4 linked regions of the Homo sapiens genome follow. The protein of the gene in region 3 interacts with the protein of the main gene of each other region in a pairwise test. Each region holds a gene or a part of one and is shown on either strand. Other genes may lie near its edges.

The links.
Region 1: the proteins of EXOC5 (region 3) and BRMS1L interact in binary tests that used the Homo sapiens proteins (3 or more experiments, as listed by UniProt).
Region 2: the proteins of EXOC5 (region 3) and RAB4B interact in binary tests that used the Homo sapiens proteins (3 or more experiments, as listed by UniProt).
Region 4: the proteins of EXOC5 (region 3) and TTC23L interact in binary tests that used the Homo sapiens proteins (3 or more experiments, as listed by UniProt).

What each region holds. Positions count from the first base shown.
Region 1 is NC_000014.9:35,857,320-35,864,347, reverse strand, and holds part of BRMS1L (breast cancer metastasis-suppressor 1-like protein), read right to left. Parts: intron 1,759-7,028; coding exon 1,662-1,758; intron 479-1,661; coding exon 395-478; intron 1-394. UniProt on the Homo sapiens protein: Involved in the histone deacetylase (HDAC1)-dependent transcriptional repression activity. When overexpressed in lung cancer cell line that lacks p53/TP53 expression, inhibits cell growth.
Region 2 is NC_000019.10:40,788,240-40,795,267, forward strand, and holds part of RAB4B (ras-related protein Rab-4B), read left to right. Parts: intron 1-7,028. UniProt on the Homo sapiens protein: The small GTPases Rab are key regulators of intracellular membrane trafficking, from the formation of transport vesicles to their fusion with membranes.
Region 3 is NC_000014.9:57,230,889-57,237,916, forward strand, and holds part of EXOC5 (exocyst complex component 5), read right to left. Parts: intron 6,479-7,028; coding exon 6,450-6,478; intron 4,933-6,449; coding exon 4,823-4,932; intron 3,145-4,822; coding exon 3,100-3,144; intron 2,996-3,099; coding exon 2,855-2,995; intron 1,862-2,854; coding exon 1,779-1,861; intron 828-1,778; coding exon 618-827; intron 1-617. UniProt on the Homo sapiens protein: Component of the exocyst complex involved in the docking of exocytic vesicles with fusion sites on the plasma membrane.
Region 4 is NC_000005.10:34,863,164-34,870,191, reverse strand, and holds part of TTC23L (tetratricopeptide repeat protein 23-like), read right to left. Parts: intron 5,756-7,028; coding exon 5,630-5,755; intron 3,301-5,629; coding exon 3,123-3,300; intron 2,987-3,122; coding exon of another isoform or gene 2,933-2,986; exon of another isoform or gene 1,288-2,932; coding exon 1,179-1,287; exon of another isoform or gene 343-1,178; intron 1-342.

The sequences.
Region 1 (7,028 bases), about 21 Mb from region 3:
TGAGGCTAAGGTGAGCCATGATTGTGCCACTGCACTCCAGCCTAGGTGGCACAGTGAGACCCTGTCTCAAAAAGAAAAAAAAAGTACACATGAGAATTAAACAATCATACTGTATACTAAACGACTGTTTCACATCAAAGCCCTTGGTGAACGACAAGTCACATTAATTTTCAAAGTTGAGATCATGATTGAATTTCTTCTCCTCTGCCACCTCTCCTGACCTAAAGTATACACTATATCCTCTGTCTTCAATCGGTTTTATAAATAAATCATCTTTTGCTTATTACAGGATCATGCAAATAAAGTCAGTGTTTACAAATAAAAGTTATAAAGGCATGCACAATGGAAAAACGCACATCAAGGAAAAAAAAACAGAAAATTTGGAAAAGGATATCTGAAACAACAACTGGCTTCTTTTTGTCAGGACTGAAAGGATCCTTCCTCTTTTTTCTTGACTGAAGCTCATCATTCCACAGCTCTGGCAGGTAAATAAAGATTAAGTATTAGTGGGTTTCTGGTGAACAAAGGAGGAAAAAAGACTCTAATTTTATGGTGGCTATTTAGTTACATGTAAAAACGTAAAAAACTTCATTGGCAGCTGGGTATATATAGATTAAGCTGTACATAATTTCATGAGCACTACGTGTTTAAGTTTTGCTCTGCCTTTATTAAAGCAAAAATCAATTTGGCACTTCATGACTAAGAACTGATTACCATATTGTCATGCACTTTGTAAAATGTATATTACATGCATTGTCTCACCTAATCCCCAAAGCTACCACTGAGGTAGGTATTCTTATTACTTTCCTTTTACAGACAAGGAGATTGATTTAGAAAAGTGAAGTAACTGTCCATGGTCACCAGACTAGTAGGTGAGGGAGCACTGGCACTAGAGCTCAGCTTATCTGACTCCACCATGCCTACCCTATAGAGAACTAAACTTTATAACAGATAAAGTAATATATACTCAAGAACTGTAGGATAACCTAGTAGACCTTCCACTCAATGCAAAAAACCTTTCTGTAACACCCTGAAAAAGCCAATTTCACACTGGACTGATCTAATCATTAATAAGTTATTCCTTTTTCTGAAACAAAAATCTACCTCCCTATAACTTCTATCAGTTTGTCCTACCTTGTATGATGTCAAAAAGGTTTTCATTCCTTCTTCCACATAACAGTCTTTCAAGACTTACAAGGAAAAACATATACTATAGCTAATTTCCAATACTATTCTTTTTTTTTTTGGAGACAAGATTGCCCAGTCTGGAGTGCAGTGGCGCCATCATGGCTCACTGCAATTGCAATCTCGAACTCCTGGGATCAAAGGATGCTTCCGCCTCAGTCTCCTGCATAGCTGGGACTGTAGATATAGATGTGCAGCACCACATCCAGCCCTGACACTATTCTGCCAGTAGGTTCCTGTCATACTTCTGTTTCGTCCCTTGTCGTGTGCTCCATTTTTTACATCTTTCTAAAGTGTGAATTCAAATAACAATAACAATATAATCACCATCACTTTAGAGTTCTTCCCCTTTTCTCCTTTGCTGGGACATTTCATTTACATAATATTAATATTAGAAGACTGAGATACGATATGACACTACAGTAAACCAAAGGTCTGGTGCCACTCAAACATCACAATCATATCATTCTCCTTACCTGAGGTAATATCAATGCTGTGCCTATCCTCTTCAAGCCTTCTTATCTTCTCCTCTAGTTCACTCTGGACTGTATCATATAGCAACAGCTTTTCGCTCTGGGGAGAAAAACAGATTATACTTAAGTAGAAAGAAAAAAATTGGTGTATCTTAACTAAGAGTACCAAATAACTTAAAGTACTTTAATATATGATGCTTTGGTTTGCTTTTTCAATTCAATTAAAAATTCTAAAGAAGAAATGTCAAATACATGAAAGAAATAAAACTAGAAAATATAGAATCTATATATAGATTTAACTACATGCAATTACATTCTGTATAAGAGCATCTAAATTATGTCTGATGTACATTTAGAGGTAAATATTTACTTTATAAAAAACTCATAGCAAACCCCTATGGCCCCTTTTAAATTTAAGTAGGTCCCATCTGTCACCATCATGGAAAACTTATCCTATAAAGTATATCATTATAAAATGGATCATATTTTCTCACAGGAATAATAATTGGGTCATTATGCCTCACTAATATCTCAGCATCATATTAAAATAGGCAAAGAGAAAGATTCAAGTACAAATTTTATGATTATTTAAAATAATTCAATTATAGTCTAAATTATAAAATTACAGACTAATCATATCCAAATCTTTCTACAAAACCATAGACAGATTGAATTGCTACAACATACAAGACTGGCAAATAGACTAGAACCCAGGTCTACTAGCTCTAGTCCATGTTTTTAATTATATAATACTGTAGCCCTAATTTAAAAAGCCATAAAATGTACATAATATATAAAGATCAATTACACAAAAAAACCTATGGCCACATGTTTACCTCTAGTGAAGGATATTAGATAATTGGATATAGCAGATATGACTGTCTTGCGGAAGCTATTGGGATATAGTTGGATATGACTACATGTAGAAAACACAGGCCACACCCATGTAGGCTGCATTCCTGGTGTCAATCATGAAGCCCTCTCTCTTGAGTCTGAAATTTAGAAATTATACATGCTTGAAGGGTTTCCTGAGTGTCAGGGAAAAGATGGCTTACAAACTTGAGGCAAGCCAGGTGCTAAGGAGAAAGCAAAGCTGAAAACTAAAACTAGATTTCATATCAAACATGGTTTCATTGCATGCTGTTCTCTCTGCTTACTTCCTTTTGCTTGTTCCCTTGCCTTTAGTAAAGTCTTATGAAATATTCCAGCTTTATCTATATTGTGCTGCAAAACTCGGAAAATATCAGAGAAAAAGGGAGAGCAGTTCCCCTCCACAAGACCGTGGTAGCAGCTATAAATAGATCCAATCTCCCCAACCAAAGATGACTCTAAATACAGAGCTGGAGTGATAAGCCTTTTGCTGTTAAGGATATGAACATTTAATTGGTGTATTCTCTTTTCTTCCTATTGACAAATTAGGCCAAGCAGAAATTCTTTTAAAAATCCACTAATCATTCTTTATTATTTTTTAAAAAGCCACAATGAAACTGAAATGTTTGAAGCATTGAAGGCATCTCTAAAAATATCAGAAGTATACTTTAAACTGCCATGAATCCATTCTCATTCTTATTTCTCTTTCTTTTTCTTGGAAAGTTCTCTCCCTTTTCTCCAGCTTCTCAAGACACTCAAAAACCTCCCCTGAATGGAAAATGAAGCCCTAATGGAACAGCTAGAAGATACCTGGAAAAGAAGGGGGCTAACTCTCTTGCTTTGGTGGCTGTGGAGTTTTCTATGTTCAATAGTTACTTTGGTTTTTAAAAAAATACTACTCATAAGTATAGGTTTGGTCTCAAGATCCCACATCCCTCTAGTCTTCACATCTAGACTTACTGATCCTGCTCACTAATAACCCCTTTCCCAGGCTGACGCCTATGCTGTTTCTCATCAGGAGAGCTTTAAAAAGCCCCAGGAAAGTGGCCCCAAGCTTCCATTATTGTACCGACCTCACACTGACCTGTATTCAGAACCAACTCCTCTTTGGCAGTTCCCTGACTTAACATACCTCACAATTCTCAACTTCTATCAGGACTGGAGCCCTGGAAGATTTTCATAGGCTATTATCAGAGAGTGACCCATTAAAACGCTACAATAGTTTTTTTTTTTTTTTTTTAAGCATACTGCACTGGAATAAAAAAAATGCAGAGTAGAATTTTAAAACTTAGAAACAGACTCTGGCTATGCGGAAATGACAAAGGTGACTTTTTAAATCATCTGGGAATCTGACAATAAATGACAAGAGAAAAATGAGTTTAGGCCAGCCACGGTGGCTCATGCCTGTAATCCTAGCACTTTGGGAGGCTGAGGCAGGTGGATCACTTGAGGTCAGGAGTTCAAAACCAGCCTGGCCAACATGGTGAAACCTCGTTGTCTACTCTACCAGAAATACAAAAAAATTATCCAGACATGGTGGTAGACACCTGTAATCCCAGCTACTCAGGAGGCTGAGGCACTAGAATCGCTTGAGCCCAGAAGGTGGAGGTTGCAGTAAGCCGAGATCATGCCACTACACTACAGCCTGGGTGACAGAGCAAGACTCTGTCTCAAAAAAAAAGAAAAATGATTTTAACTATATCCTGAATATTTTTTGCTTTACATTATACAATTTACATTACACATAAAAGTAAATGGACTAAAGGATTAAATTTATAAAATGAAAGCTAAAAGAAAATATTAAAGAAACAATATATAAGAAATTTCCCAGAACTGAAGATACGAATTTTTTTATTAAACAGTTCATCTGGTCAGGCACAATGGCACACACCTATATTCCAGCACTTTGGGATACGGAGGCAGGAGGATCACTTGAGCCCAGGAGTTTGAGACCAGCTTAGGCAACACAGTGAGACCCCATCTCTACAAAATATTTTTTAAAATTAGCTAAGCATGGCAGCGTGGGCCTGTAGTCCCAGCTACTCAGGCAACTGAGGCAGGAGGATTACTTGAGCCCAGGAGTTGGAGGCTGCAATGAGCTATGATTGCACCACTGTACTCAAGCCTGGGCAATAGAGCGAGACTCTGTCTCTTTAAAAAAAAATTCAAATAAATAAATACATAAAATCAAAAGTTCCTCTGGGTATCCAGCACAATGAACGAAAAAAGACCACATCAAAGCACATCATCTCACAATCCCACAATACCAAGACAAGAATAAAGAGAAGATCCTAAAAGTATTCAGGAAGAAAACAGGTCATGTACAAAGGATCAGGAATCAAAATGGTAAGAGACTTTACAAAAGCAACGCTGGAAGCTAGAAGATAATGGAACAATGCCTTCAAAATTCTGAGGAAACATGATTTCTATCTAGAATTCCATACTCTTAAGTGTGAGCGTCAAGATGTTTTCAGACAGGAAAGATGTGGTGGTTTTAAAACATGTCCAATAATCCTTTGATACTCCTAATTTCAAATGGTAGAGACTAATACTCTTTCTTGAATACGGGTAGGATGGGCCAGGCACGGTGGCTCACGCCTATACTCCCAGCACTTTGGGAGGCTGAGGCTGGCGGATCACTTGAGGTCACAAGTTCAAGACCAGCCTGGCCAACATGGTGAAACCCAGTCTCTACTACAAAAAAGGAAAAAATAAGCCGGGCGTGGTGCAGGAACCTGTAATCCCAGCTACTCGGCAGGCTGAGGCAGGAGAATCACTTGAACCCAAGAGGTGGAGGTTGCAGTGATCCGAGATTGCACCACTGCACTCCAGCCTGGGTGACTAAGCAAGGCTCCATCTCAAAAAAAAAAAAAAAATGGGTAAGATATAGCAACTGACTTCTAGTGAACAAAATCTGGCAGAAATCTAGGCCATAAAAACAGTCACCTCTGTCTTGCTATCTTGGATCACTAAGTCTGGAAGAACCTGGGTACCAGGTTATGAGGACACTCAATCAGCCTGTGGAGAGGCCCATGTTCTCACATGGGTTCTCTAAGGCTTCTCACCAAGAACCAGCAACAACTTGCCAGCCTGCGAGTGAGTCACCTTAGAAGCGGATCCTCCAGCCTCCAATCAAGCCTTGAGATGACTGCATCCCTGGCTGATATCTTCACTGCAACTTCTTGGGATTCCCTGAGCCAGAACCATCCAGCTAAGTTGCTCCCAAATTCCTGGCCACTGAGACTGCAAAATAATAAATGTTTATTGTTGTGTTAAGCCACTAAGTTTTGGAGTAATTAATTATAAAGCAATAGACAAGCAATACAAGAAATCTCAAAAAACTAACTTCTAGAAATCCTTTGTCAGGATGCTACTGAAAGATACACTCTACCAAACTTAAGGAGAAAATAAGATGCTAGCAGAGGAGAGGTGAAGGGGACATCCAGGTTGCTGGTAAAGAGATGCCCCAAGAAGACAGATGCAGCTGGCCTCCAAATGAAAGATGGAGCAGGAGGATAGGGGACACGAGGGATAGAGGGGTTGCTTCCAGGAGGGAGCCCTTCAGAAGAAAATGAGGCTGATGGATTATCTGATAAGTTTGATCGCAGAGAAAACAGCGTTAGGACTTCAGTGTCTGAAAGAAGCAAATATGAGGGGGTTTTCTAGGTCATTCTAGAAGTCATCAGAAGACACTGTTTACACCTAACTTTAAAACGAGAAGCAGTTTTGACCTTTACTGGACAGGAGTTTAAATCTTCATACAGTTGAAAACTTATGAGAGGTCCAGTGCTTTTTTTTTTTTTTTTACTTTTCTTGAGTCCATTAGGTAACATGCTCTTTATTTTGTGGAATACTCAGGCTTCATGAAAAATCAATACAACTGTACATGTTTAGCTTAATTAAAAAAAAAAACAGCATTAGGAGGCCCTCATAGATCTGCTAAGGTCTGTAGGAAGAATTGATAAACACAGAGAAAACTAACAAACAATAAATGAAGCAATTATTAATTCCAAAGTTTAAAAAAATACACAAGAAAAATTTTAAACATAATGTAACTCTTGACTCAGTAAACAATATTTATAATTTAAAACAAAAACTGTAACACAACAGTATTAGAAGAATGAAACAGAAAAATCCTCAGCTTCCATAATAGGAAACCAATAGATAATGTCTAAAACTGCTTTATTTAGAAATATGAGGGCCAGGCGCAGTGGCTCACACTTATAATTCCAGCACTTTGGGAGGCCAAAACAGGAGGATCACTTGAGGCCAGGGGTTCAAAACCAGCTGGGCAATATAGCAAGACCCCCATCTCTATAAAAAAATTTTTTTTTAAGAAAGGAATATGAGGGTAAATTCCAGAAGCAACTGATACACAAGTTAGAAATATAATTGCCACTGGGATACAGAATTTAAAAATAGGACAGAAGACTGCTGTTTTTCATTATAAATTATAAGGCTATGCCTTCAAAAATATATACACACATTACCTACTAACAA
Region 2 (7,028 bases), on a different chromosome or scaffold from region 3:
TAATCCCAGCACTTTGGCAGGGTGAGATGGGAAGATCACTTTGAGACCAGGCTGGGCAACAAAGCAACCTTATCTCCACAAAAAGTTTTTTAAAATTAGCGAGGCGTGGTGGTGTGCACCTGGAGTCCCAGCTACTTGGGAGGCTGAGGTGGGAGGATGGCTTGAGTCCAGGTGTTCGAGGCTGCAGTGAGCTGTGACCATGCGCCACTGCATTCCAGCCTGGGTGACAGAGCGAGACTCTTAAAAAAAAAAAAAAAAAAAAAAGTAAAGTATGTAGTAGTGAGGGAGGTAAGAACTATGGGGAAAAATAAAACAGGCACAGATGAGTGGATAGGGTGGAGGAGTGTACTTTTTTTTTTTTCTTTGAGATGGGGTATTGCTCTGTTACCCAGGATGGAGTGCTGTGGCGTGATCTCGGCTCACTGAAACCTCCGCCTCCTGGGTTCAAGTGATTCTCCTGCCTCAGCCTCCCGAGTAGCTGAGATTACAGGCGACTACCACCATGCCTGGCTAATTTTTTTTAATTTTTATAGAGACAGGGTTTCTTTTTTTTTTTTTTTTTTTTTTTGAGATGGAGTCTTGCTCTGTTGCCCAGGCTAGAGTGCAGTGGCACGATCTTGGTTCACTGCAACTTCTGCCTCCTGAGTTCAAGTTGCCTCAGCCTCCTGAGTAGCTGGAACTACAGGCGCCCGCCACCACGCCTGGCTAATTTTTATGTATTTAGTAGAGATGGGGTTTTACCATATTGGCCAGGCTGGTCTCGATCTCTTGACCTTGTGATCTGCCCGCCTCGGCCTCTCAAAGTGCCGGGATTACAGTGTGAGCCACCGCACCTGGCCGACACAGGGTTTCATCATGTTGGCCAGGCTGGTATCAAACTCCTGACCTCAAGTGATCCACCCACTCTTGGCCTACTAAAATGTTGAGATTACAGGCGTGAGCCACTGCGCCCGGCCAAGAATGTACTTTTTTTTTTTTCTGAGATGGAGTTTCACTCTTGTTGCCCAGGCTGGAGTGCAATGGCGCGATCTCAGCTCACCGCAACCTCTGCCTCCTAGGTTCAAGCAATTCTCCTGCCTCAGTCTCCTGAGTAGCTGGGATTACAGGCATGTGCCACCACACCCAGCTAATTTTGTATTTTTAGTAGAGACGGGGTTTCTCCGTGTTGGTCAGGCTGGTCTGGAACTCCCGACCTCAGGTGATCTGCCCGCCTCAGCCTCCCAAAGTGCTGGGATTACAGGCGGGAGCCACCACGCCCAGCCTTTTTTTTTTTTTTTTTTTTTGAGACAGAGTCTCACTCTGTCGCCATGCTAGAGTGCAGTGGCACGATCTCGGCTCACTGCAACCTCTGCCTCCTGGGTTCAAGCAATTCTCCTGCCTCAGTCTCCCGAGTAGCTGGGACTATAGGTGCGTGCCACCATGCCCAGCTAATTTTTGTATTTTTAGTAGAGACATTTCACCATGTTGGCCAGGTTGGTCTCGATCTCTTGACCTCGTGATCCGCCCACCTCAGCCTCCCAAAGTGCTGGGATTACAGGCGTCAGCCACCGCACCTGGCCAAGAGTGTACATTTAAACAAGATGAGGAGGGAAGCCTCGCTGAGAAGATGACATTTGAGTGAAGGAAGGGAGATAGGGAGGCCTGTGGGGATCTGGGGCAAGAGCACTGCTGGAGAGCACAGCAACGCTTCTAGCGAGGGGTATGCCTGGTGTCGGTGAGGGTGACCAAAGCAGCCAGTGTGGTCATCATGGAGGACCTGTGTGTGTTTTGTGGGTACAGCATGAGATGGGGTCAGGGGTTGGAGGAAGCAGATCAGTTAGGGCCTGTGGGCCCTGGGGAGGCCTCTGGCTTATACCCTGTGTGGGAGCCATGGGAGGCTTCTGAACAGAGGAAGGACAGGATCAGATTCAGGGGTGCAGAGAGTTCCTCTGGCTGCATAAAGGGAAGGGGCTGTGAGGGACAGAGGAGGTCACCAGGACACCAGAGAGGAAGCTGCTGCAAAGTCCAGGGAAGATGGTGGAGGACAGGACAAGGGGGCGGGAAGAGGAGTGGCTGAGAAGGGAATAGGGTTCATGTCCTCCCTAGACTCTCTGTCTTCCAGTCTTGGCCTCTCTCTTTTTTTTTTTTTTGGTTCCTGTCTTTTTATTTTGAGACAGAGTCTCGCTCTGTCACCCAGGCTGGAGTGCAGTGGCGCGATCTTGGCTTACTGCAAGCTCCGCCTCCTGGGTTCATGCCATTCTCCTGCCTCAGCCTCCTGAGTAGCTGGGACTACAGGCACCCGTCACCATGCCCGGCTAATTTTTTGTATTTTTTTTAGTAGAGATGGGGTTTCACGGTGTTAGCCAGGATGGTCTCGATCTCCTGACCTCGTGATCCTCCTGCCTCGGCCTCCCAAAGTGCTGGGATTACAGGCATGAGCCTTTCCTTTTTTTTTTTTTTTTTTTTTAATTTTAGAGAGAATCTCACTCTGCTCACTCTGTCACCCAGGCTAGAGTGCAGTGGCGCCATCTTGGCTCACTGCGACCTCCGCCTCCCGGGTTCAAGTGAGTCTCCTGCCTCAGCCTCCCAAGTAGCTGGGATTACAGGCATGTACTGCCACAACCAGCTAATTTTTGTATTTTTTTTTTTTTTTTGGAGATGGAGTCTCGCTTTGTTGCCCAGGCTGGAGTGCAGTGGTGCAGTCTCGGCTCACTGCAACCTCCGCCTCCTGGGTTCAGGTGATTCTTCTGCCTCAGCCTCCCGAGTAGCTGGGACTACAGGTGCGTGCCACCACGTCTGGCTAATTTTCTGTATTTTTAGTAGAGATGGGGTTTCACCATGTTAGCCAGGATGGTCTCGATCTCCTGACCTCGTGATCCACCTGCCTCGGCCTCCCAAAGTGCTGGGATGACAGGCGTGAGACATTGCGCCCGGCCAATTTTTGTATTTTTAATACAGACAGGGTTTTGCCATGCTCGTGAGGCTGGTCTTGAACTCCTGACTTCAGGTGATTCACCCGCCTTGGCCTCCCAAAGTGCTGGGATTACAGGCCTGAGCCACTGTGCCCTGCCAATCCTGTCTCCTTTTGATGCAGCCACTGGGTCTTTCTAACACACATATCTGCTCCTGTCGCTCCCTTTTTCAAAACCATCCATGCATCTCAGGGCCCCAGGACACAAATGAACTCCTCAGCCTGGTGTTTGACCCTCTGCAGGGACTGGCCCCTGCCAGCCCAGCCTTACCGGCCTCAGCCACTTGTCGGTCTCCCTACCTCTCAGGCCACTCCAGCCACACTGAAGTTCTTCCCATTCCTCTGGGCCCTTGCTCATGCTGGGCCTCTGCTTGGAACATTCCTACCCTCTTTTCCCTGGCAACCTCCTTCCTCCAGGCAGCACTACTTGTTCCTCCAGGCTTGGTCCAAACTTTTGTTTTTTTTTGAGATAGAGTCTCTGTCACTCAGGCTGGAGTGCAGTGGCGTGATTTCGGCTCACCGCAACCTCCGCTTCCAGGTTCAAGCAATTCTGGTGCCCCAGCCTCCTGAGTAGCTGGGACTATGGGCATGGGCCACCAACGCCTGGCAAAGTTTTTATATTTTTAGTAGAGACAGGGTTTCACCACGTTGGCCAGCTGCTCACAAACTCCTGGCCTCAAGTGATCCACCCACCTCAGCATCCAAAGTGCTGGAATTATAGGCATGAGCCACTGCACCCGGCCCCAAACTTCTTGACAGGCTTTCAAAACCCTGCAGGATTTGGTCCCATCCCTCCTTCTCTGGGGGATGTGTATGTCTTGCCAGTTCTCCCTTCTATACTTCATGCTAAATCCCCTCCCAGCCCTTGGCAGCTCCAGGGTGGGACAGGTGGGGAACAAGTGGTTAGACCTTGGATCTACTTGGAAGGCAGAGCCAACGTGATTTCCTGATGGAATGGATGTGTAATCTGAAAGAGAGAGAGGAATCAAGGATGATGTCTTCAGACAGTGCTCTCTTGTCTTTCCAGGACTTTGCACCTGCTGTGCCTGAGCCTAAGTTTGCTCATCTGTAAAATGAGGCTAATAATAGCACCTGCTTCTATAGATGTTGAGAAGAAGAAATACATTAATTCACGAAAGTGCTCAGAATGGGGCCTGATGGTCAAGACTTGATCGATGAGGGCTGTTTTTAAAGTTTTCTTCTTATCCATCTTTGGGCTGAGCTCAAATGAATGGGTGTGTCTTCTTCACCTCAGGGCTTAGCAGAGACTCTGTCCTAGAGAGTTTGCCCTCAGTAGGTGAAATGTAACAAGGCAAGGCAAGGCTTTTTCACACTTTGCTGACTGCAATCTACAGGAGGAAATATATTTTATGTGTTAATCAAGGACTGACTGTAGCAGATCCCACCCACATATAAAACTCAAACACACATTTTCCTACCACCAGTATTCTTTCGTTTCTTGGCACTAAAATGAAAGTCACATAACATACATTTACGTGACTTTTCAAAGTGTACAATTCAGTGGCATTCAGTACATTCACAGGGTTGTGCAATCACCACTTCTGTGTTGTTCCAGAATGTTTTCTTTTTTTTTCTTTTCTTTTTTTTGGAGACAGAGTCTCGCTCTGTTACCCAGGCTGGAGTGCAGTGGTGCGATCTTGGCTCATTGCAAGCTCCACTTCCAGGGTTCAAGCAATTCTCCTGCCTCAACCTCTGGAGTAGCTGGAATTACAGGCATGCACCACCACACCCGGCTAATTTTCGTATTTTTAGTGGAAACGGCATTTGACCGTGGCCAGGCTGGCTTGAACTCCTGACCTCAGGTGATCCACCCGCCTCGGTCTCCCAAAGTGCTGGGATTACAGGTGTGAGCCACTGCGCCCGGCCTCAGAACGTTTTCATTACTCTCAGAGGTGCCATGCTTATACTGCTTTGTACCTTATACCTTTGTACCCATATTTATTAAGCAGTCACTCTCCATTTCCCCCAACCCCTAGCAACCACCAATTTGTTTTCTGTCTCTTTTGGCCAATATGATATTCTTTTCCTTTTCCTTTTTTTTTTGAGAAGGGTCTCACTTTGTCACCCAGGCTGGAGTGCAGTGGCACCATCTCAGCTCACTGCAGCCTTGACCTCCTGGGCTCAAGTGTTTCTCCCACCTCAGCCCCCCAAGTAACTGGGACTACTGGTGTGCACCACCACGCCCAGCTAATTTTTATATTTGTATTTTTTGAAGAGATGGGGTTTCACCATGTTGCTCAGGCTGGTCTCGAACTCCTGAGCTCAAGTGATCCACCCACCTCAGCCTCCCAAAGTGCTGGAATTACAGGTGGGAGCCACCATGCCTGGCCTCTTTTCCTTTTTTCTTTTCTTTTCTTTTTTGTTTTTTTTTTTTTTTTTTTTTTTAGATATGGTCTCACTGTGTTAGCGGGGTTGGTCTTAAGCTCCTGGCCTTGCCGGGCGCAGTGGCTCACGCCTGTAATCCCACCACTTTGGGAGGCTGAGGCGGGCAGATCACGAGGTCAGGAGTTCGAGACCAGGGTGACCAACATGGTAAAACCCCACCTCTACTAAAAATACAAAAGTTAGCCAGGCGTGGTGGTGTGCTCCTGTAATCCCAGCTACTCAGGGGGCTGAGGCAGAGGAATAGCTTGATCCCTGGAATCAGAGGTTTTAGTGAGCCGAGATCGCACCACTGCACTCCAGCCTGGGCGACAGAGCTAGACTCCGTCTCACAAAAACAAAAACAAACAAACCAAAAAAACCAAAACAAAACAAAAAAACTCCTGGCCTCAAGCAATCCTCCACCTCAGCCTCCCAAAGTGCTAAGATTACAGGCATGAGCCACCGAGCCCAGCCAACCAATATAATATATCTTTTTAAATTATTATTATTATTTTTTGAGATGGAGTTTCGCTTATGTTGCCCAAGCTGGAGTGCAATGGTGTGGTCTCGGCTCACTGAAATCTCCGCCTCTCAAGTTCAAGCGATTCTCTTGCCTCAGCCTCCCTAGTAGCTGGGATTACAGGCGCCCGCCACCACGCCCAGCTAATTTCTTTGTATTTTTAGTAGAGACAGGGTTTCAACATGTTGGCCAGGCTGGTCTCAAACTCCTGACCTCAGGTGATCCGTCTGTCAGCCTCCCAAAGTGTTGGGATTATAGGCATGAGCCACTGCGCCCGGCCTATTTACAAAATTTTTTTTTTTAAATAATGTTTTAATTTTGTAGAGATGGTGTCTATGTTGCCCAGGCTGGTCTTGAACTCCTGGGCCCAAGTGATCCTCTCTTGCCCTTGCCTCCCAAAGTGCTAGGATTATAGGTGTGAGCCACTGTGCCTGCCCAACCAATAGAATATTCTTATTATATATGATGCACTCTGGTATTTGCCGTTCTGTGCTATTCTGTTTGAATTTAAAAATTGGTCAAGACCCACCAAACTGATTTCCCCACCAAGGCAGTGACACACATTAGAATGACCTGGAGAATTTTAAAAGATACTGATGCCCAGGCCTCACCCTAGAGATTCTGAAGTGGTTTCAGGACTTTTTCTTAATTAAAAGATAAATAGAGATGAGGTCTCACTATGTTGCCCAGGCTGGTCTCAAACTCCTGGCCTCAAACGATTTCTCCCACCTTGGCCTCCCAAAGTGCTGGGATTAAAGACGTGTGCCAGGCTGGGCATGGTGGCTCACGCCTGTGATCCCAGCACTTTGGGGGGCTGAGGCAGGCGGATCACAAGGTCAGGAGATGAAGACCATCCTGGCTTGATCTGTAGATCAAGTGAAACCCCGTCTCTACTAAAAATACAAAAAAAAAAAAAAAAAAAAAATTAGCCAGGCGTGGTGGCAAGTGCCTGTAGTTCCAGCTACTCAGGAGGCTGAGGCAGGAGAATGGCGTGAACGCAGGAGGCGGAGCTTGCAGTGAGCCTAGATCGCGCCACTGCACTTCAGCCCAGGCAATAGAGCGAGGCTCCATCTCCAAAAAAAAAAAAAAAAAAAAAAGATGTGAGCCAGCCAGTTGCAGGATTTCTGGAAGCTCCCAGGTAATGCTATATACAACCAAAGTGAGAACCACTAA
Region 3 (7,028 bases):
ACCTGGAACTTATTCTATCGAGAAAAAAAAAAATGAAAGAAACTATGGAACTTTTTATATTACTAGTGTTCTGCTCGATAGTTTTAAAACATTATTTTTTAATTGACAAATATCTACTTTACTTTTTTTTTTTTTTTTGACACGGAGTCTTGCTGTGTCGCCCAGGCTGGAGTGCAGTGGCGTAATCTTGGCTCACTGCAACCTCCGTCTCCCAGGTTCAAGTGATTCTCCTGCTTCAGCCTCCTTAATGGCTGGGATTACAGGTGTCTGCCACCACGCCCAGCTAATTTTTGTGTTTTTAGTAGAGATGGGGTTTCACCACGTTGGCCAGGCTGGTCTCGAACTCCAGACCTCAGGTGATCAGCCCATCTCGGCCTCCCAAAGTGCTGCGATTACAGGAGTGAGTTACCACGCCCGGCTTACATTTCAATCATGTTATGTTAGGTCATTTCAACATGTGGTTTAAGAACAAGATTTGATCAATAATATAACAATCTGGATTAAAAGAACTCTTCACAGAAAATTCTAATGATAGTCAACATTTGATAATTTGCCCAAATATAATGAAGTTATTAATGTCTTCAGTTTTAACAGAAGTATTTAACAAAAATACTCACCCTCCTGTGCCAATGGATCTCTTTTGATGGTTTTTCGAATCATAATAGCGCTGTAGGATCATAGCACTTCTGCTTTTCAAATATCCAGTCTCCACCTCAATATAGTTCTCCAAATAGGAAATGAAAATGGATTTGATAAGCTTAGACAAGAAAGTCTGTTTATCAGTACCTAAATTAAACTCCATCAGCTTGCTGGAAAGATTGGTGGTTCTTTTCATGAAAAAGGGGGAGAAAAAGATTAATATACATTTTAGGTATAGTAACAATATTAAGGAATACAAATTTTTACAACGTGACTTTCATGACTTATGTTAAGCCACCATTTCTTAAACTCTGGGAGAGTACTTATGATGCAGAGATCAACTCTACAGGGTTACATATAAATACAGTGAAATATTACGAACAACTTTACGGTTTTGAGAACTGTTATAAATTCCTAGGAAAAGAACTTGTGAGGCAATTAACTAGTCCAGAAATGGCGACAGTGGCAGATTGGCCTCAAGTATGTCTAATGCCATTCATCACATGGGACCCAAAACAGAGTACTGAAAGATCTACTGTCTGTTCACCCTCTTTTGTTTTGTCCTTGTGGACTTTCCCTCTAATTTTCTATTTCCCATTGCTGAAGATAGGGTCATAACAGTGTTGTTGTTGAGATGGACTTCCTCATTACGGTAACTTTGGAAAAACCTTCTCCCAAAATGAAGACACTGAAGAAGAGTAATAGGGTTGGGAAAAGTCAAGGAAAAAAAAAACCCCACAAGACTCCATATGAAGCTTCTGAGACAATCTCTAAGAGTAACACTGACATTTACAAAAGCACAAGACAAATTCCTACAGAAGATTTAGAGCTGAAATTGTCATTTGTTAAGATTACATCACTTCCTTTTGCAGTTTCTAAAGTTTTGACTGCAGATAAATGTAATTACACTAATGCTTAGAGAAAAAATAAAGCATAACATCCAATTCCTGACGTTAATGTATTAAGAATGTTGTACAATACAGTCTTGTACAATATAACTAGTCTATACAGCTAAGCATTTAATGCTAAAAGGTAAACTGGTGACAAACTTATTCAAAAATACCTGAATACTTCCTTGTTTTTATCAAAAAAATTTAAAAAATCTGTTATCTATTATTTTCTAATCATTAAAAATTTACCTTGTATACAGATCATAGAGATTTTTGAGATATTGCTCTGCATCGGACTTCCTACATTCTTCTAACTGCTCTTTCACAAAACTCTAAAAGAAAAAGGTTAACATTCTGTTAATTAGGTAAATATTAAATTCTACAACTTCTCAAGATATTTTTCTTTTAAAATTCACTCCACAGTTTTGAACCTTTCTGACTTACAATCCAATCAAAAAGGCAATTACAGAAAACAAACCAATCATAAAATATTTTAAAACAGGTTTTTACATTTTACCACTTCTCATATTTACCTGTAGAGGATCTTTATCAGTCTTAGGAATAATACCTTTTCTGTTAAATTGGCCTATTCTGCTCTGTGAGGTGCATCAAAAAAACAAAACTGAGAGTACAAACAATAGAGTCAATTCCTTAAGGCAGCATCTCCCAAACTGAGTTCCAGGTAACACTAGTGTTCCTTCAGATGTCTATAGGCATTACTCCAAAACAGGGTTTCTTAGACAGTAAATGTGTGAAATGCTGTACATTACATCCCCACTTCTAGAGAATGACAATACTATCAAAATTCCTGAATTGTGTTAAAAAAAAAAAAAAGCAAACATTTATTGAATGTTGTTTAATCCAGTTGTAAACAGCTTAGGAAATGTTATCTGAAAGTACAGTGATATGGGGGTAAATTAAATTTCTGTGTTTTCCCTTTTCAGGTTAGTACCATATTATTAAAAATTCTACAGACTGCTCTTGTAATTCTTGTTCAGTTTCACAAATGACATCTATTGGTGAAGGCAGGGACCAAAAAAAAAGAAAAATCTTCAAGGCTATCTTACCACAATATATTATACTACTACTACGAATACTACACAAATTTCAAGCATGTTCTCTGATGATACTTATTGATTAGCACTTTCTTCTTGGTGAATACAAAACATTTTTTAAAAAGCATGAGGATTCCTTTCTCCTTAACTAGATTACTATTTCTAAGGTCATTACATAAGTAAACTAAATTTTAAAAATACTTTTAAAATATAGGGAAAAAATTACATATTGCTTTAAGAACTATTTAATTTGTTACTATTTAAAATTACCTGTAGTTTGATTTCAAATACATTTTGAATAAGTTTAGCCAGGACTGTTTCTGGATTACTGAAGATATCTCCAACTTGTTTGTTCACTCTTTGACAGAGTATTCCAGCGTCTTCAAATATATCATTTCTCAAATAAGCACCCTAAACAGCAGAGACATTTTATACAGTGAACATATAATTTCTACATGATTTTAAAACAACAATTAGCATAAAATAATATCCAACAAAGTGTACTGTTATGTTACCTCCTGGCACTGCTTTATATAAACATCAACACAATGGGAATAACCCTACAAGGAAGAAACACATTGTTATTATTCTGATTCAATTATAATAATTATTATTTCAAAAAAAGAAGTGTTATATGTCATAAAGCTATGACTATTTACCAGTAAATGGCCAATAGCAACACCTGTTGGACTTAAATAAAATTAACTGCAGAAAACCAGTAACTTGATAAAGGTATCGTCTCCCTAGTCACTTTCTATGATAAAATTTATCAGTTGGTACATATCCTTGTTGAACTTTAGACTAAAACAAGAAAGATGAAGTATGTAACTGAGTTCTTTAGAGTAATTTTTGTCCTATGATCATCTAGCCATCTCCTTCAACTCCAAAACACACCCACTCACACCCACCCACACACATACACACAAACACACACATACACAGAGAGTCAAGGTCTTGGGAAAAGGTTTTACATATATATATGTATGTGTTTTATATACATATAAATATATTTATATATATTAAAGTGTGTATATATACGTGTGTGTGTGTGTGTGTGTGTGTGTGTATATATATATATATGTGTATATATATATTTCTTTTTTTTTTTTTGAGACAGGATTTCACTCCTGTCACCCAGGCTGGAATGCAATGGTGTCATCTTGGCTAACTACAACCTCTGCCTCCCAGGCTCATGCGATCCTCCTGCTGTAGCCTCCCGAGTAGCTGGGACTACAGGCACATGCCTCCCCTCCGGCTAATTTTTGTATTTTCTGTAGAGACAGGGTCTCACCATGTTGCCTAAGCTGATCTCGAACTCCTGAGCTAAACTGATCCACCCGCCTCGGCCTCCCAAAATACTAGGATTACAGGAGTGAGCCATTGCGCCTGGCCTTCTCTAGCATTTGGTTTTCCTTGCAAGAATCTGGACAGTTGTATTCAGCTGGTAGTTTGGAAATTTACTTTTTAAACTAAATGTATTTTAATAAAATGTGTTTAAAACAAACTGATTTGTCATTAAGCTCACCATAATGAGATTTTTGCCTATTAATAAATCATACATAAAAACCAGTAAGGAAAGCAATATAAAGTGCACTACTGTCTCAAGAGCCATTCTCAATACTCATTCAGATTTTACCAAAATGAAAAGTCCAACAAATAGCTTCCCCTTCCCTAATCTGATACAAATCAAAGAAACAGATTGAAGGAAGAACCATTTCTTTAAGCACTTTCTTTGCAGAAATATACTCCTACACAGGGATTCTCTCCCGAGTTCAAATTCTAGGTAAACAATTCCGTAATACAAAATTCTTTTGTATTACCTCCTGAGGTCCCCTGGATTTAAGTCTCTTACTAGTCATGTTCCATCTACTCTCTGGTTCCTATATCCTACAGATATTTACGGTCACGTTTTCTTTCTTTTCACCTATATTATAATATGTGGAAGCAAAAAGGCAGACAATATGATTTTCTTTATCAAAGTATAAAAATTCATCAATATTTAATTGATCAATTAATTTTAATTCAATATTAATATTATTGAATATAAAACCTTAAATATTAAATATATAACATTCAATACCATTTACAGAGTATCAAATGTACAAATTACTCAAAACAGTGAAAATTATCACTGTGATAGTTACATAATGAATGGGGGAAATCAGAGACTATAATATATAGAACTTACGTAATTTCCATAGCCTTGAACACTATTCATTTTTAATTCCTACTATTTACCTTAAAATGAAGTAAAACTGCTGCTACTTCTCTCATTCTGGAGATTTCACCTCTTCTTTGAGCACTGGTAAACTCCTGAATCAGCTGGCATTCTAAATCATGGTATTTACCTAAAAATAAAGTCATTCAGCTACACTGAGGCATACAAGGCATCCACGTTATTTAAGAGTATCTACATTATTTACAAATATAATGACTATGAATATAGCTTTCTTTTGAAGGAATTACAAAAACAAATGAGATTATAGGCCGTGAACCCAGCCCCTGTAATATACTGTGGCATATAAATCTATATTTTCAAGACAAAAAACTTCCAAACTGGCAAAATTACTGAGCTTTCCAGGGTCTGACTGTCATATGCCATTGTTACTTAAACCAGTAGCTGACTGGAAAAAATCCTCCAGATGCTATTTCTGATAGCAACACACATGAAAAATCCTACACATGGAAAGGGTGAAGAGGACTACAGAACTCTTTACTAGAGTTCTGATGCCTCTACCTAGAACAATAGTGGACTGATGACTGAACACCAAATCTCATCCTGATAATATGCAGTATTTATATTTTTTTCATTTTCTTTTTTTTTTTTTTTTCGAGACAGAGTTTCTCTGTGTCACCCAGTCAAAGTGCAGTGGCGCGATCTCGGCTCACTGCAACCTCCACCTGCTGGGTTCAAGCGATTCTCCTGCCTCAGCCTCCTGAGTAGCTAGGATTATAGACACCCATTACCACACCCAGCTAATTTTTGTATTTTTAATAGAGACGGGGTTTCACTATGTTGGCCAAGCTGGTCTCGAACTCCTGACCTCAGGTGATCCACCCGCCTCGGCCTCCCAAAGTGCTGGGATTACAGGTGCGAACCACCATGTCCGGCCCTATTCACTATATTCTTGAGGCTAGTATGGTTCTTAACGAACACCTGAACTTCAGACCAATCTATTGTGATCAAAAATATTCCCAGGAAGTCTAACTAGCTGTGTCATCCTTATTCTAAGACTTTTTGGGAATATAGATGAATCTTTGAATCTTCTATGCAGTGGCCTACTCTAAATAGTGACCCCAGCTACCACAGAACCTGCAAATTTAGTGGTCTTTTCAAAAACCTAGAATGATCTAACCTAAACTAAAATCCAAGACTGGCAAGAACCAAACTAATCATGTAAGGAGTTAAATAGATACTGAAATGCTTATATAATCTTAAAAAAAAAAAGAGAGAATCTTATTCAGAGATAGATGTATGGAAAGCACAGGATTTCCAAAATGCACTATTAAATTAAAAATGCAAGGTATAAAGCTATTTATATAGTATGGTAGCAATTATTTAAAAATAAATGAGGATAGAAGTACATATAAATATCTATACATACACATACATATGTACACACACACATATATAGAATTTATGTCTTATGCTTGTATATCCATAGATTATTCTGCAAGAATATCCAAAAAAACTGGTAATGGTTGTTTTGAGGGAAGAGAAATCAAACTCAGGGATCTTCTATGCAGTAGCCTACTAGGGTAGGAAGATGACATTGTTCCTGCTTTTTCTCCTTTTGCTGTTTTATTTTTACACAAGTAGTTTTTTTACTTATTAAAAAAAAGGTAAAATAAATACATCACTTACTTGCAATTTTGGATTTAACTTCTGAAAATCTGAAAGACAAAAACCAACCATGAGGTTTGTTAGTTGTGATAAACATCCTATGGCAATGTAAGATGCTAACCAAATGGGAAACTGGGTGCAGGAGATACGAGAACCATCTGTACTATCTTTGCAACTTTTCTGTAAATCCAAAACCATTATAAAGTTAAAAGGTTATTGTAAAAAGAAAAAAGACAAAATCAGAGGAGAGAATTCTGATAGGAAGCATGCCAGGTGATAAAACTTAATGTAGGTAGGTAGCTGGTTCTCATTTAGGAAATTCACATTGAAAATCAATTCTCTTTTTAAAGAATCAACTGCTCTGCATAAGACACTAACAACCCAGCCAGTCCCAAAACTGACTTACTGTTCTTACTTTTATTTGCTGGCATTTTAAATACACTTGATTATTTGTCTCCCTCCCCATTCCCATGGTTGGTATTTTTAAAAATAAAGTTCCATCATTATTATTCAAAAGAAAAAGATGATCAAATAATATATTATATGATGATATATTAATGACAAATGATAAGACCCAGCAATGTGCCTAGCAGAGTAGCC
Region 4 (7,028 bases), on a different chromosome or scaffold from region 3:
CACCTGGAATTTAGTGAATGATATAATATAAAAATCTATATTTTTAAAGTTAAAAATTAGTATATAAGAAAATAATGAGGTGGCCTTGAAATCTCTCAACTCTATAAACATAAACGCTTGTTTTTTCTCACTTAAAAAAAAGCTAAAATTTGTACATATTTACAGACTAAATTTCTTGTAACCACAAAGACTACTCTTAAAAAGCTCAAGTTGTATGGAGAATATATACTGTGAATATAGACGAGGAAATCTTAAAAGGAGAAAGAGGATTAGCTGAAAAACAAAGAATCAGGAAGTCTTCAATGGATGTTTATGCTTAAAAAATAATTAAAAGATCAAAACTTTTGCAAACTGAAAAAAAATGTTTATTTAATGACATGGGGAATACAAGCATTGAAAAAAGTAGGATGGAAAGCTTTCTCTATAATTCTGTCCCTCTCTCTAACTGGAAAATAACATACACAAAAAGGTTACTTTTATAAGCAAAGAAAATAGACAGTTTTAAAATGATCAAATTATATTCTTCATGAAGCCTAAATTCCTCCTGACAGGCCACTGAATCCATCAGTGTCCATTAATCTGATCAAGCCAGCACAGAATGATACATTGTCCTCCCTCATTGGTTCATTTGTGTCTCTCCCAAAGCCACCCACTTTCAAAAAGATGACCTTGCCAGACAAAGAACTATTGTTGAAGCATAAATTAATCAGTTGGCTTTCTCTGCAACCCCCAGTATCTAACTATTGAATATGGGTCAAGAAAATTCTGCTAACAAACATTCTCTCTTGTCAGCCAGAGGAAAAGAGTCAAGGAGACTGAAAGTGGAGGAGGTAAAGCTCTACCCATTTATCACTGGATGTCCTTATCAACCGATACTGCACAGGCCACATTCACAGTATGTGTGATATCTATTAGTTAAGAAGGTGAATCTCACTGAGATTCAAAATAAATAGAGGATGTAGAAATCAGATGATTTATTTGTTACTGACATTCCAACGAATGTGGGGGTATATTATCAGGTTTAAATTAATGTGTAATTGATTTTGTATGAGACTGTGACCCACCTAATTTTTCCATTACAGGAATAAATAGCTAATTAGAATCTTAGATAGGCTGTTTGCCAATGTGCTTCCCTCATGTGACTGGGAAATAACTTCAAGGCTACCTCTTTTACCTACCCCTGTGCTGGGCCTCTCCAGACATGGCATAAGCTTTGGCCAGTAACGCACTCATTTCTGCAGTTTTGGGGCTGACTTCAGTGAACAAAGAAACACAGACAGAATGAGCCTGGAATAAAGAAAATCATGACAAGGTAAGCACCCAATGACAGTGTTCACTGTGGATTTAGATGAGAGGTGAGTTTGAGTCCCAGCTCTGCCACTTCCTAGCTATGAGTCTTGTGCAAGTAATTTCACCTTCATTCGTAGAAGGAATATATAATTCCCACTGATTAGGGTTTGGGAAGGATTAAGTGAGATGGTATATGCAAAGCACAGGGCACGGTGCTCATCACGTGGTAAGTTCTCAATAAATGTTGGCTAGTATAATTTTTATTAGATTTCATAGCAAAAATAAAGTCATAACCTTAGCTCAGTCTCACTGGACTGAACTCCAGTCTTGAAGGCAGTCTTGTAAATGTAAATCAGGGATAATAAGAATAGTATTTGTTATAAAAAGTTGTTGTAAATATTAAATAAATTAATGGTTAATATATGTAAAGTGGTTAGAACACCACCCAGCATATAGTAAGCACTAAAAAAGTGTTAGATTTTATATTATTTGTGCTAAAATGGAAGGAGTAACACTTAGAAAAGAGAAAGAGAAAAACATTGAGTCCACACCCACCAGCCACAAAAGAACCACCTGTGCTTAATATTTCATAGGCCAAATACTGTGAGGTGTTTCAAAGAGCTGAGGGGTTATCAGAGAAGACTTTGGAGCCAAGACACAGAGCAGAGTTGTTATGAATACAGGCTGTAGGGTCAGATGTGGAGTTCAAATCCCTGCTTTACTATTTCTTAGCTATACAATGTCAGCTGAGTTAGCTATAACTCTGTGCGTCAGTTTTCTCATCCTTAAAATGAGATAAAATAATAATGGTACCTACTTCATAGAGCTATTGTACAGATTAAATGAATCGATATATCCTCTAGGGAACGTAGAAAAAGCATTCCATACATTTTAACTCTTATCTTTTGGTGCTTTTGGGAAACACTGCTATTTATTGTTTTATTCATTCTGATCTGACCACTGCTTTGAGAAAGTCTTGAACACAAAAACCAGACTGGCTTTCTCTGTAAGCAGTGGACTCCCTGCCTTCACAGCAGCATTCTCTGACATCTCTCCACTGTGTGATGTTTATAATTGTGGACTGTCAGATTGTTTGCAATGCCTTTTCTTCAGAGTCTGTTTTCATGTATACTGTTAGATTGCATTGCACCTTTTCTATGATACAGGATATCCAGTATTTTGATGTTTGTCACTGTGGGAGATACCTGAAGCCACAGGCAGCATTCTCCTTCGGAGAGAGAAAAGGTGAATTTAGCAGCTTCAAGTACATGATACATAAAAGTACCCTAATATAATAGACTCACCATTCCTTCCTATGTTTTGTTTTGTTTTCCCCCGGGCATTTGTCAAGTTAGTTACCTCCAAGTGAAACACCCTTTTGTTAGTTTAACCTTAGGTTTGGAAATATAATCAGCTAGACTAGTTTAAAGTACAAATGACAGCATTACCCTAAAATACCATGATTTTTCATTTAAAAAGGCCTTTTGTTTTTGCTGAAGATTTAAGTTCGGTTGTCCCTGTATCTTTTTTCCTTGGAGTAGACTCACATTTTGCTTCTTTTTTACAGCACCAACAGAGATAAGAGGGGGAGGGGGAAGTGCTGTCTGCACAGCCAATGACACAGCACATTCGCCCACCTGAGTCAGTGTTCTCTGGCCTGGTCATTTAAGGTTTGATCAAGGGCTCTTAGGTGGATCTGGAGGAAAGTCAGGGTTAAAACAGAATCAATTCCAGCCCTTGTTCTTCTGAGAAGCCCATGCTTCCCTGGCCCTGAGAACCAAGCCTGGGGCCAAACAAGGCAACCCAGCCTGGGCTCTGGCCAACCCACTGACCTGCTGCAAGTACTGGATGGCCTGGTTGTGGTTCCTCCTCAGCTGCTCTATCTGAGCAGCTTCCTCGTACAGGCTGATCAGATCTGACGTCCTATCACCCTTGGCAGCAATAACATCGCCAATTGCCTTTTCAAAGTATGCCAGAGCTAGGTTCAGTCTGTGGATGGCCAAGGAGGCTCTGCAAGAAAAGGGATGAAAATAGAAAGTCACAGAGAGGCCACTTACTTTGCAGACACAAAAGGAACTGATTCCAAGAATTAAAGAATTTGGCCTTCACAGGCCCATCATCTTGGTAGCTGGCTCAAAAATCTAGCCTTGCTGTAAATAAACTCCAATTATCCTGCATTTTACCCATCAGATTTCATTGACGACCACTCATTAAACCCATTACTATGTCGTGCTGTTGTCTAATTTTTTTTAAAAAGCAAATGGAAAAATGGCTTCCAGGAATTCACAAGATGGGATAATTCACCCATAAACATAGACTTTCTAAAATCAAAATAAAATTTTATTACCTCTGATTCCCTCTCTTTCAGGCCAAAGAAAGTTTTTGCTTTGTTTTGTTCCATTTAATTTGGCGAATTCCTCCTCAGTTAAAAATGAGGATAGAAAAAAAAATGTAAATATTCCCCCAAGAGAGTGATTAAATAAATTATAGCATATCATACAATAAAATACCTTAGAGACATTAAAAGTCATGTTTTCTTTTTAGACAGATATGGGAAGATATTAAAAATGTGCTAAAAGGAAAAAGATATAAAGCTGCACTTAGACTGTGATCCACATAGAGATATAGTTATTGATATCCATATATATCTGTTCAAAATGTTCATAGCAGTTACGTCTGTGTGGTGGTATCACAATCGGCTTATTCGTTCTTCATACCTGTCTGTATTTTCAAAATTTTCCACAACAAAGTTGGGAATATAATTTTTTTAAATGAGGATAAAACAATATCTCATTGAGGTTTATCTTTCCAGAGACAGCAAGGTAAAATGAGATCATGGGTAGTTCAAAGCTGGTTCTGGTAATTATGAGCTTTCTCAAACTCTATAAGCCTACATTTCCTTCTAAATAAAACAATTGAGTTTATACTGCAAGTTTGTTGTGAAGAATAATATTAAGTATAAAATCACCTAACATATAGTAGATATACAATCAATATTCCTTCCTCCTGACTCCAATATTTGTATTCCTAAGTTGAATTAAAAATATATGTGTAAGCCAGGTGTGGTGGTGTCTTGCCTGTGGTCTCAGCTACTGAGGAGGCTGAGCCCAGGAGTTCAAGGTTTCAGTGAGTTCTGATTGCACCCTGCACTCCAGCCTGAGTGGCAGAATGAAAAACTATCTAAATGAAAATAATAGAAATACCTACCCTCATTGGCTGTCATGTGGACTAAGTAAAATAAATTATGTAAAGCACTTAGAACAGTGTCTAGTATGTAGTTATACTTAGTAGGCACTCTAACACTTAGAACAGGACATGCATAAAAAAGGTATTCAATAAATACTGGAGAATGGATGAACAAAATGAGCACCAGAGTTTTTCTGAAAAAAGAATAAGACTATCTTTCACATAAGGCAGAAAAACTTTAGGCCCTATGTGACAGGAGTAGACATTCACCAGACTGTAATTTATTGCCCTGTGGACTTAAGTCAATAGTTTGATTTAGTTCTGGACATTCCAACATCTCCCCATTTCCCATCTGACTTCTAGATTCATGGTTGTTTAGAGGACGCAGACATGACGCATGTATTTCATTTACTTACTATTCAGTCATATACCCTACTGTGCCAAGTGCTTACAGTTTTGGAAACAGATTGCTTTCAAGGATGTAAAGATATTTGAAAAATCTAGGGAACAGTAAACTCTTTATTCTTTTTCTTCTAATAATCTGATGGGCCCACATTCATTTCTAAATATTCTGATTCTCAGAGGATCCCTAAGTCAACAGCAAGACAGTTAAATCTTGTTCTGGCTTAAACCAATTCCATGAACTTTGTTTTCATATGGAACAGAACTTTCCTTAAAAATGTACATGCTGTGCATGGCTTTCACAGCTTCCAGTTAATTGTCTTCATTAAGTGTTCCTTCATCTAAAATGTCACATGTCATGACAAAAATAGGTGGCAATTCAGAGAAAAATACAATATTAGAGTGAGTGTGAGAGGCAAGTATAAGGAAGACTAAGAGTTAGTGAGTTCAGATCACAGATCCAATATTTACAAGCTATGTTATCTTGGACAATTTGTTTAACCTCAGCTTCAGTCTCCTTGACCACCCCCCTTTAATAAAATAATAATCATACCAACTACCTCAATGGCTGTTGTGAGGATTAAATGGGGCAGTACACAAAATGCCCAGTGTATCCATTTGGTAAATATGAGCCTCTTTTATTATCATTTGAGTTTCTGGGTTTTTTTGCTCTAAATATTTTTCTCCCTTATATCATGTAATTCCAAGCCTCATTCATAAAAGCCTCAGCTTCTCCAAGCCCAGATCTTACCTGCCCAAAGCAAGTGTTAGGTCGTTCTCAGAGACTTGTAATTCACAAACACCTCCTTTATATAATTCTTTCAGCTCCTTCATGTTTCTCTCTGCCTTCTGCAGGTTGAAATAGGCTTCTCTGCCAGTGAAATAGTCAAGGAAAATGGCAAGCACTCAAACTAACATCCACTGCACAGGGACAGCAGGTGATAAGGAAACAAAAGGGGCTCTTGGAAAAGTGAAGCAATATTAAAAATGGGTACTTAACTATGTTCTTTATTTTCCATGTATTATGTTGTCAAGAAGCAAGAATTCTTTAGAAAAGGAACAGGGGCTTGGGTTTCCTGTGGTGGTTGCCTGAATCCAAGACTAGAGTAGGTAGGCAGTGTTTGCAGGAGTGAGCGGAAACTGTAAATTACACTCGATTTCCTTTAGAGGCATCTACTGCATGACAATAGTTATTCATTTTTCCCAAGCCTGTTCCTGTGAATGGTAAAAGAGAGGAACTAATTACGCTGAAAGGAACTTTCTGGGTCATTTAGAAAGTCCAAGCAAAGCAGGTTTTGGGCCAAAGGCAAACAGCAGAAAAGCAAAAATCCCCTTAATTCCCAAACATTCTTCTATTTCCCACATTTTCAATAGCCCCCTGCTAAGGGTATAACAGAGGAAGGCCACATATCAGATTTTGCAAGTTGAACATTAGGACCAAAAAAGTAGAGAGGGGGATGTGTAGAGAGGAGACTGGGGACACATAGGCTCAAAGAGTGCTCATGATGATGCGTGAACATCAAATGCCCTTAACATCTTTCCAGTGGAGATGGTACAACAGGCTGTCAGAATCCCCAGTTCTGAGGAAAGGCACATATAACAGTACCCCTCTGGGGATTTATAGAACTACTTGTTTTGTCTATTTTGCTTGGCCTCCAGCCTCATGGGCAGTATCCACAAGAGCATTTCAAAAAACTAAAATGATCGAGAATCAGTTAAATCAGTGGTTTTGGGCTGCAAATTACAATCTCTGGAGGGCTTTTAAAAATTTCAATGAACAGATGTACCTCAGAGCCTCTCAGTCAAAATCTTTGGGGCAGGAACAGACAGCAGAAATTCTTAAAGCTCCCCAGGGGATTACAATGTGCAGCCTAGTTTGCCAAATTGTGCTTTAAATTATCACCCATTCTCTCCATCACTACACCACCACCACCACCACCACCCTCATCCTCATTGCTAACACTGATTTTCTTGGGTGCTCAATGAAGAGCAGAACAGACTCAGAAAACCTTCAGCTGGCTAGGTAATATGTGACTAGTGAAATCTCTTCCGTGGCTCAACTCAGAGCTTATATGAATAGACATAGGAAGAGAATACACACCCTTCTAGATGGAGAGGAGAGGCTCATGGAGGGCCTTGATGTTGGAACA